Linked DNA regions of Homo sapiens. The protein of the gene in region 3 interacts with the protein of the main gene of each other region in a biochemical or structural test. Each region holds a gene or a part of one and is shown on either strand. Other genes may lie near its edges. The genes, in order: RBL2, RBL1 and BRF1.

Region 1 (3,651 bases), on a different chromosome or scaffold from region 3:
ATGAAAATCAAAACCACAATGATATATCACCCAATACCCGCTAAGATGGCTATAATAAAAATAATAAGTTGGCAAGGATGTGGAGAAACTGGAACTCTTGTGCATTACTGGTAGCAATGTCAAATGGTGCAGCTTCTGTGGAAAATGGTACGGTGGTTCTTCAAAAAAGTTAAACATAGTATCACCATATGACCCTGCAGTTCCACTCCTAGGAATAAACTCAAAAGGACTGAAAATGGGCACTCAAACAGGTACATGATATACCTGTTCACAACAGTGCTATTCACTATAGCCAACAGTTGGAAACAGCCCAAATATCCATCAGTGTATGAGTGGAGAAAAAAATTGTGCCTATCCATACAATGGAATATCATTCAGTCATAAAAAGGAATGAAGTACTGATACATGCTGCAACATGGGTAAACCTGGAAAATATTATCCTAAGTAAAAGGAGCCATACACAAGAGGTCACATATTGTACCATTTCTATAAACGATTAAGAACAGATAAATCCATACAGCCAGAATGCCAACTGCTGGTTGCCAGGTGCTGTGGGAGGTAGAATGGGGAGAAACTACTTAATAGGAAAGGAGTTTTACTTTGCAGGTACGGAAATGTTCTGGAACTAGACAGAGGTGGTGAGTATACAACCATTTATTACACTTAGTACTGTAAATGTGCTAAATGCTCCTAAATTGTTCAACTTAAAATAGTTAATTTGGCTGGGCCCAGTGGCTCATGCCTGTAATCCCAGCACTTTGGGAGGCCGAGGTGGGCAGATCACCTGAGGTCAGGAGTTTGAGACCTGCCTGGCCAACATGGTCAAACCCCATCTCTACTAAAAATGCAAAAATTAGCCAGGCATGGTGGCACATGGCTGTAATCCCAGCTACTCGGGAGGCTACGACAGGAGAATCGCTTGAACCTGGGAGGCAGAGGTTGCAGTGAGCTGAGATGCACCACTGCACTCCAGCCTGGGTGACAAGAATGAAACAACATCTCAAAAAAAAAAAGAAAAACCCAATTAATTTTATGTTATGTGAATTTCTCCTCAATAAGTTATTTAAACAAAGTAAGATAGTAAGTGTTAATGAGATAGTGGAGAAACTAAAATCTTTATTATACTGCTGTGTAAGTGTAAAATGGTACAGTACTTTGGAAAACAATCTAGCAATTCCCTAAATAGTTAAAACACAGTTAATGTATGACCCAGCAGCCCATTCCTAGGTATATACCCTAGAGAAATGAAAATACATGTCTATACAAAAACCCAAACACAAATGCTAATAGTGGTATTATGCATATATGCCAAAAGTAGAAACAACTAAAATATACATTAGCTAATAAATGGATAAAAATACTCTCATATAACTATACAATGGAATATTATGTTCTAAAATTGTGGTGAGTATTGCACATATCTGTGAATATACTAAGACCCATTTAGTTGTGCATTTTAAATAGGTGAATTATAGAGCATGTAAACTGTATCTCAAGACAGTGGTTAAAAAATGTTCTCAGTAATGAAGACCTATCTTTGCCTTTACAATTCCAAATGGTACTCACCTTTGCCATCACATAAATGGCACACATTAATAACTGGTCCAGATGTCTGTCCATCATAAGTTCAGGACACTGAATTATGGAGAATTCAAAGCAGGTCCAGATTTTTTTCCTCAATTCATCTGAAATATCTAGTTTGGCACAGAGATCCCGAAGGCGGACAGCTGCTAAATGGTATACCTAGGAGATAAAAACATTTCAAACTTTGTTTAACACTTGTATTTCCCAAGCTCATGCTCTGATAAGGTATGTGAAAAATTACCTTTCTAAAGAAAAGCGATAAAGAGCTGGTCTTCCTGGGTCTATTACTACTGCTGGTTACAGACTGGCCTTGCTTCTGCTGTTGGCCACCTGGGGAAATCTGTTGAATGGCCACTTGACCAGGGACTTGCAAAGTTGTTCCTGTCACCTGTTGAGAGCTCAGACTTCCAGCCAGGGCCTGAGCACTGAGGGGCTGGATGGAGCCTGTCACAGCTTGTGCCTGCCCCCCAACATTGACTTGGACAGGGAAGAATGTTATCCCTCCATTTTCATTGGCAATACCTAGTGACAGAGAAAAAAAGCATGAAGAAAATGTTGATAATAAGAGGTTCTCCGGGCAGAGGTTTACAATTTCTGCTCTCCCAAACCCTCTCTCCCCATCACTCCTCTGTCCCCTATGTCACTCTAGCCAAACCTCGGGTAACTTTTCAATACATGCCACAGAGAAGGAACTCAATATCCAACTCTGCCTTCCTTACCTTGCACAGGAATGGTTACCGTTTGCCCATTGTTGGCTGTGACAGTGGCGGTTGCCATGGTGACCAAAGTCTGTCCAGGAACTGGTGTGACAGAAACAGTCTCCCCAGATACATTCTGCACAGGGACAGCATTGACTAGGGGCTGTGGGGGCATGCGCCCAGGCGTCCCTCCATCAGAGGGGCTATCATTCTCAACAAATAGCCGCCTTCTGGTAGTGCTGGCTGGTGGGGAGCTGTACCTATCGTATAATGTGGTTGGAGATGTTATGCCTAGGGTCAAAACAAATCAAACAAAGCATTTAACTCAAGGAGACTCAGATCTGACTTCCGTCCAAGCTCTTATGTTAAAAAATAACTACAGTGTTTGAAATACTTCATAATTCAAAAAGCAAACAAGAATTACAGAAGTCATATCTTACCTATATTCATTAGTGAACTTTCATTCGTGTTCAGTGAACACTACTGAGAGCAAAATTTTAAAACGGAATTTTTTGTCTTGCAGTGTTCCTTTCTCCACGCCCCCTTTCCCAAATCAGACCTGACTCTGTCTTCCACTACTAAAGAACCTTCATGATTTAGGGGCAATTTAAGGAATTACCCTATTTTTCTATATTATATTTTTCTATAATATTTTCTATCATATCCACTTTCTACCTACCACTCATGTAAGATGTGATTTTACTACAGAGCCACTACTTGATAAGGGGACCTGATTGGTAGTATGTCATCTAGGAGCATTCCGCCACCGGTTTTATCAATTTTGATCTCTGTCTTTTTCCACATATAAAAAATTATTAAAACTCAATAATGTTCTTAAGCAAGGTGGACATGCATGATTTGGATTCAGTTAAGCATAATTTATTTTTTTAAAACAGTTTATATACCATAAATTTCATCTACTTAAATTATACAATTCAATGGTTTGGGGCAAATTGTTACTATTTTTTTTATTTTTTGAGACAGAGTCTTACTCTATCACCCAGGCTGGAGTGCAGTAGCCTGATCTCGGCTCACTACAACCTCTGCCTCCTGGGTTTAAGTGATTCTTGTGCCTCAGCCTCCCAAGTAACTGGGATTAGAGGCATATGCCACAAGGCATGGCTAATTTTTGTATTTTTAGTAGAGATGAGGTCTCACCATGTTGGCCAGGCTGGTCTCGAACTCCTGACCTCAGGTGATCCACCCGCCTTGGCCTCCCAAAATGCTGGTATTACAGGCTAGTTTTTTAAAATTGTGGTTATATATATAACATAAAATTTACCATTCAACCATTTTTAAGTGTATGATTCAGTGGTACACAACCCATTATGGCTTAGTCTATTTTTAAGTATTCACACCAATGTCTGAA
Region 2 (3,651 bases), on a different chromosome or scaffold from region 3:
AATGAAAAGACATCCTATGATCATGGACTGGAAGACTTGACATTCTTAAGATGTCAACACTAGCCAATGCGATCTCCATATTCAATGCAATCTCTGTCAAAATTCCACAATGTTTTTGCAGAAAGAGAAAAATCCATCCTAAAACTCATACAGACTCTCAAGAAATCTTAAATAGCTAAAACAATCTTAAGAAAGAAAAACAAAGTTGGAGGTCTCACACCTCCTGATTTTAAAACTTATGACACAAAGCTATGGTTATCAAAACAGTGTGGTACTGAATACAGATAGACATATAGTCCAATGAATAGAATAGAGAGCCCAGAATTAAACCCCCATATCTATGCTCAAGTGACTTTTCAACAAGGATTCTAAGCTCATTCAATGGGAAAGGGCAGTCTTTCAACAAATCGTGCTGGGAAAAATGGATATCCATGTGCAAAAGAATGACTTTAGACCCTTATCTAACACCATATACAAAAATTAAAATGGGCTGGGCGTGGTGGCTCACGGCTGTAATCCCAGCACTTTGGGAGGCTGAGGTGGGCAGATCACTTAAGCTCACGAGTTGAGACCAGCCTGGGCAACATGGTGAAACCCCGTCTCTACAAAAAAGTTCAAAAACAGGCCCGGCGTGGTGGCTCACACCTGTAATCCCAGCACTTTGGGAGGCCAAGGTGGGTGGATCACCTGAGGTCAGTAGTTTGAAACCAGCCAAACCAGCACGGTGAAACCTCGTCTCTACTAAAAATACAAAAATTAGCCAGGCGTGGTGGCATATTCCTGTAGTCCCAGCTACTCAGGAGGCTGAGAAAGGAGAATTGCTTGAACCCGGGAGGCAGGGGTTGCAGTGAGCCGAGATTGCGCTACTGCACTCCAGCCTGGGCAACAGAGTGAGACTCTGTCTCAAAAAAAAAAAAAACAAAAACAAAAAACCCAAAAAACGAAAATTAGCTGGGCATGGTGGCACATGCCTGTAGTCCTAGCTGCTCAGAGGGTCGAGGTGGGAGGATCATCTGAACCTGGGAGGCGGAGGCTGCAGTGAGCTGTGACTGCGTGACTGCACTCCAGCCTGGGTGATAAAGTGAGACTCTGTCTCAAAAAAAAATAGACATAATAAATATAAGAGCTAAAAACTATAAAACTCTTAGACGAAAACATAGGGGAAAAGTTTTATAATACTGGATTTGGCAATGATTTCTTGTGTATGACACCAAAAGCACAGACAAAAAATGAAAAGAATAAATTGACTTTATTAAGATTAAAAACTTTCATGTGTCAAGAACACTATCAACGGAATGAAAAGGCAACCCACAGAATGGGAGAAAATACTTGTAAATAGTATATTTTATAGGAGATTAATATCTAGAATACATAAAGAACTCCTACAATTTAACAAAAACAAAACCCAAAACTCATAATTAAAAAAATGGGCAAAAGACTCGAATAGACATTTCTATAATGAAGATATATAGATGGGCAAAAGCACATGAAAAGATACTCAATATTACTAATCATTAGGGAAATGAAAATTGAAACTATAGTAAGATGTCTCTTTATACCCATTGGATGGCCATTATCAAAAAAACAAACAAACCAGAAAACACGAAACGTTGGCAACGATGAGAAGAACTTGGAACACTTGTGCCTTGCTAGTGGTAATGTAAAATGGTCCACCCACTGTGGAAAATGGTACGGTGGTTCCTCAGAAAATGAAATACTAAATTACTCTCCCATTTCTGGGAATATACCCAAAGGAATTGAAAGCAGAGACTTGAATAGATATTTGTTGCTATTTTTTTTTCTTCTTAAGACAGGGCCTCGTTCTGTTGCCCAGGCTGGAGCGCAGTGGTGTGATCTCGACTCACTGTAGCCTCAACCTCCTGGGCTCATGTGATCCTCCCACCTCAGCCTCCAAAATAGCCAAGACTATAGGCATCTGCCACCATACCTGGCTGCTTTTTTTTTTTTTTTTTTTTAAAATAGAGATAGGGTCTCACTGTGTCGCCCAGGGTGGTCTCAAACCCCTGGGTTCAAGTGATCCTCCTGCCTCGGCCTCATAAAGTGCTGGGTTTACAGGCATGAGCAACCACGCCTGGTTTGAACAGACACCTGTACACAAATGTTCATAGCAGCATAACTCACAATAGCCAAAAGGTAGAAGCAACCCAAATGCCCATCAGCAGATGAATGAATAAACAAAATGTGGTATTAAAAAAAAGTATATTCATATGATGGAATATTTTTTCTTTTGTTCTTTTTTTCTCTTCTTCATACAATGGAATATTATTCAGCCTTGAAAAGGAAGGAAATTCTGGCACAAGCTATAATATGAATGAACCTAGAAGACATTACGCTAAGCCAGTCACAAAAACAAACAAATATCGTATGACTTCACTCATAGGAAGAACCTAGAGTAGTCAAATTCACAGAAACAGAAAGTAGAATAGTAGTTGCCAGAAGCTGGGGAAAGGGAGAAATGGATACAGAATTTCAGAATGGGAAGACGAAAAAGTTCTGGAGATAGACGGTAGTAATAAAGCTGCACAACAATGTGAATGTATTTAATACCATTGAACTGTACACTTAAAAATGGTTAAAATGGTAAATTTTGTGTTATGTATATTAGAAAAAAAAAAGACCAAAGTCTGTCTCTGTTACTCAATCTTTCTTCCATTGATTAAACAAATTCTTCTAAAGTGCTATAAAAACACATACCTTTCTGTAAAATAGTGCTAAGGACCCAGTTCTCTTTGGCCTGTTTATTCCAGTTGAATGTACCTCTTGTGCTTTAGTCAGATTGGTCTGTTTTGGAGAAGCACCAATTAATGAATGAGCAGTAAGTGATACAGGACTCTTGACTTTGGACTCCTGATTTGTATTCATGGAAAGAGGTATCAGTGTGATCTCTCCAGCATCATTTGCGACACCTGAATGTATAAGCATTATTAGAAATAATCTGCATATGTTCTAGGAAAGTTGTCAACTATATATATTTTGACAATTATATATACATATATCTGTGTGTATAAGAAGGCTACAAAATAGTAATTCTAGGTTATGACTGAATTCTTTTTTTTTTTTTTTTTGAGACAGGGTCTCACTTGGTCACTCAGGCTGGAGTGCAGTGGCGCCATCTCAGCTCACTGTGGCCTCGACCTCCTGGGCTCAAGTGATCCTCCCATTTCAACCCCCGCAAATAGCTGAGACTACAGGTGCAAGCCACTATGCCTGGTAAATTTTTTTTTTTTTTTTTTGAGATGGAGTCTTGCTCTGTCGCCCAGGCTGGAGTGCAGTGGCGTGATCTCGGCTCACTGCAACCTCTGCCTCCCGGGTTCAATTCTCCTGCCTTAGCCTCCTGAGTAGCTGGAACTACAGGCACATGCTACCACACCCGGCTAATTTTTAAAATATTTTTAGTAGACACAGGGTTTCACCATGTTAGCCAGGATGGTCTCGATCTCCTGACCTCATGATCTGCCCTCCTCGGCCTCCCAAAGTGCTGGGATTACAGGAGTGAGCTACTGTGCCCGGCTTGTATTTTTTTTTTAGAGATGGGAGTTTTGCCATGTTGCCCAGGTTAGTCTCGAACTCGTCAGCTCAAGCCATCTGCCTGCCTTGGCCTCCCAAAATGCTAGGATTACAGGCATGAGC
Region 3 (3,651 bases):
GACCCGAAGCCATGGGCCTCTGCCCGCCCTGGGCTGCTGCCCTAACCCAGCCACTCAGGACAGGATGGTACCTTTTCCCCACACTGGTCACAGGGTCAGCCCCACTTCTGCTGGCCGGCGTCCTCCTTCGTGACAGCTTCCTGGCACTGGCGCTATGCTCGGGCTGTGCATCCTCCCTGTGCGGACTGCCCCCGCCGGCGCTGCTGAGGCCCCGGAGCACGCTATAATTGATCTTGCTGGAGATCTTCTTCTGCTCCAGCATCTTCTCGATGGCCTCCCTGGCGGTACTGGCCTGAATTGGCTCCCGTCGCTTGCAAGACTTCTTGGGCTTGAGGGAAACAAGCAAGAATGCCTCCCGTGAGTCACGCCCACTGCACTCCACCATCAGGGGCTCCACGTGAGGCCAGGAGTGCAGGCGGGTGAGGCCTGGCTCAGGCCCTCAGAAGGGCCGCTCCTGCCTCCTCCCCCCAGAATGTGGGCCAGCCTGGTGCTCTCTGGGCCTGCCCACGTCAAATCCTGCCCTCCCAGGTGAGTGGGGCACGTGGCCTGGCATGGGTGCTGGCAGGGCCTCCAGACAGCAACAGCAGCAAACATGCCACAGGTGCTCAGGGCCCTGCTGCCCCTGGGTCCCACACAGGGCAGGGCCACATGCACACGGCAGGGCGATGTGCTGCTGCACTGTGAGGGCTGCAGCAGAGATGGCTACTCAGTGAAGACAGACAATCCACCCCAGCACCGCTGCCCACGTCAAAGGCCCCAGCTGCCCGAAGACCCTGGATCTCCTTCTAGGAGCTGGAGCCATAGACCACTTCAGGGCAATCAGCCTGCACCACCCCTGCTGCCCCCCGCTGCACGATGACCTTCCTGCGTGGCCCAGCAAGGCCTGGGACGTGCTGCTGGGTGGGGTGGAGTCCCTGGGCTCCTAACTCTCTGACCACAAGCTCCCCGGGTCCTGCTGAGCGGGTAGGCCCCACATCTGCCATCCCAGCCACCTCCAGCTTCGTCTGAGGGACCCCAGTCTCGCAGGCAGGGAACTGGCTCCCCGTGTTTTCTCCTGCTCAGTCACTCAGAGGCTCAACCACTGCTGCCTGCACCACGAGGCTGAAGGCACATTCCGCCAGAGAGTAAGCTGGCAGAGCAAGTCACCGTGACGGCCACAAGGCAGGGAGGCATGACAGTCGGACTTTCCCAGGGCGTCAGAAGAGCAAACCCGTTAACACAGGCAGGGACCCCAGCGTCCAGCCCCGAGTCTCGACAGTCTGCCCCGGTGCTGCATCCAGAAGGTTACCCCAAAGCTGAGCACACGCCCTCCAAGGTGAGGCCGACGGCTGGGCGCCTGTGGCCAGCACGGGGCAGGACCTAGTGGTTAAGGACGTGGGTCTGGGGTCCAGAGCACATGGCCTCCGGCTGCCTGCCCTGGGGCCTAGACCCTCCTGTCACATGGGGAAGGGACATTCCAGAGACATTTGCCCCCCGTAACCTGGACACCCCCAAGAAGGCCAGGCCCAGCGTCACAGGCGCCCACCTTGTGTTCCTTGTAGATGCCGAGCTCCTTCTCTTTCGCTATTCTTGCTTCTTTTTCTAAAAGTTCAGAAAGGGGGCCAGCGTCACTGAGGGCCCACGCCCCAGGCCTGGGGACTGTGCGTCCTGCGTGTGAGTGTGGGCGGGTGGCGCTTACCCCTCTGTTCCCGCAGGTACTCGGCGTTCTCCCTCATCCACAGCTCGGCCTTCACGCGGGCTTCCGACTCATTCAGGATGTACTGGGCGAGCACAGGGAAGTGGGGCTGGCTTTTAGCCTTCGCACACCGGGGCATGCTAAGGTCGCGCTGGCCAGCGGGAAGTATTTCCACCGTTAGAGGAAGGGGAACCCGGGGCAGCCTCTATTTAGTGCGGAGCCTGGGCTGAGGCCTCATCGCGCGGGGCGAGTTGGGGACCTGTTGCTCTGTGGCCTGTCCCAAGGCCAACCACGCAGGCCACATGTGTGAGACCCCCTAGGGCAGCTTGCAAGCCCTGCCGGCACCAGGACCCTGGCCAGCCAGAGTGCAGGCCACAGGTTCCCACAAAGGGGCCAAGTGAGGGTGAGAGCCTCCCACTCAGGTACAGATGGGCCAGGCTGGAGGGGTCTGAGGCACCACGTGGCCATGAAATCAGGGAAGACGACTTCCTGCCTGACAGAGGGCAAGTATATTGAGATAAACTGCAAAGAGCTGGTCCCAATGGCTGGAAGCCCTGGGGTTTGGGGGCGCACAGCGCATGTGGAGTCAGTGGGTGCCCTCTTGTGTCTAGAGACCCCTCGAGGGGCTGCCCCTGGTGCTATTTGTGCGATGTGTGCCTGCTGCAGGCTATGTGCCGAGGGCCGCAAGGACCAGGCGCAAAGCCAGGGGCCTCTCGACAGGCCGCCCCCGAGCCGACACTGGAGAAGAGAGTGTGGGGGGGGGTCCCGGGAACAGTGGCCAGAAGGCCAGGAGCCCACTTCACCCAGCGGGGTGGGCTCTGGGCAGGGGAGGTGGCCAACCCCGCCCGACCACTCAGGGCTCCTTGGGCTGCAGCGCCCTCCCAAGCCCAGCCCCTCTTGGGAAGGGGTGCTGCCACGTACCCTGTCAATCTCCAGGTCATCAATGCCACTGAGGTCCAGCTCACCGTCTCCTGAAGCATCTTCTGGAGGGAAGCACAGCATCCGCGTCACTCAGGGCCAGCACTGATTATAGGAGCGTGGCCACCACCTGGGCTGGCTCAGGACCCTGGGTCTGGGCTAAGGGCTTTCTAGAACCCCGTCCCCTCCTCTGCACTGGTGGGTCGCGCCCTGTCTGCCCACATGACCGCACCTCTTTAAATGCCTAGCTCAGGACACTAAGCGAAGCCAGCAGAACACTGAACTGAAGCTGCAAAGGAAAACCCCAGCACTTCTGTGCTTTTTGTAAAAAAGCAACTTTTTAAGAACAGGAGACAGAGGCTGTCAGGCCCCAAAGACCGAGGGAGGGCACGGAAGCTGGGCAGGAAGGAAAGGTCAGGCCACGGAGTGAGATGGGGGTCTGTGCTCAGGGGAGCCAGCTCCCCATCACTGAGCCCATAGGTCTGGGGATAGAAATGAGGGAATAGAAATGATTCCGGAGTCCAGGCCTGAGGGAGCCCTCCATGATCATGCTCAGGACACCCCAAAACCTGCCTGTCACCCCTGCCCAGCCCCACGCAGTCCAGGCAGCATCTGCACAGCCTGGAATTGGGACAGCCTCTCCTTGCCACAGCCCCACGCCATAGCTGCCTGCCCCGTGCTGCCAAGTCAACTCCAGCACAGGGCCAGACTGTCTGAGGTGCTCTCCTGCCATGCTGCTCCAGGGCCGAGGCCAGAGACGGCTCCTCTCAGCACTCACAGGCAGCCCTTCCTCAGCTCCAGCCAGAATGGCCCTTTCTGCTCAGGGTCACTGTGCCGCTGGCTGCCCCAGGGCCTGTGCATGTCCCCTCTGCCTGTTGCTCTGTGTGACTCGCCTGGGTTCCACCCACACAGCAGCCCCAACCATCAGGATTGTCTCTACCCCGGCCCAGATATCACTTGATAAACATTCGCCTGGCTCCTCACACAGAGGCCAGGCCCTGGTGCCCGACGGGAGGCAGGGCTTGAGGGTGAAGCGTTGCAGGAAGGTCTAGGCTCTC

What was found.
Region 1: the proteins of BRF1 (region 3) and RBL2 form a complex in vitro, tested with the Homo sapiens proteins (one study listed by BioGRID).
Region 2: the proteins of BRF1 (region 3) and RBL1 form a complex in vitro, tested with the Homo sapiens proteins (one study listed by BioGRID).

What each region holds. Positions count from the first base shown.
Region 1 is NC_000016.10:53,468,838-53,472,488, reverse strand, and holds part of RBL2 (retinoblastoma-like protein 2), read right to left. Parts: intron 2,574-3,651; coding exon 2,304-2,573; intron 2,107-2,303; coding exon 1,826-2,106; intron 1,744-1,825; coding exon 1,567-1,743; intron 1-1,566. UniProt on the Homo sapiens protein: Key regulator of entry into cell division. Directly involved in heterochromatin formation by maintaining overall chromatin structure and, in particular, that of constitutive heterochromatin by stabilizing histone methylation.
Region 2 is NC_000020.11:37,029,950-37,033,600, forward strand, and holds part of RBL1 (retinoblastoma-like protein 1), read right to left. Parts: intron 2,928-3,651; coding exon 2,716-2,927; intron 1-2,715. UniProt on the Homo sapiens protein: Key regulator of entry into cell division. Directly involved in heterochromatin formation by maintaining overall chromatin structure and, in particular, that of constitutive heterochromatin by stabilizing histone methylation.
Region 3 is NC_000014.9:105,217,473-105,221,123, forward strand, and holds part of BRF1 (transcription factor IIIB 90 kDa subunit), read right to left. Parts: intron 2,659-3,651; coding exon 2,597-2,658; intron 1,827-2,596; coding exon of another isoform or gene 1,761-1,826; coding exon 1,679-1,760; intron 1,582-1,678; coding exon 1,526-1,581; intron 329-1,525; coding exon 72-328; intron 1-71.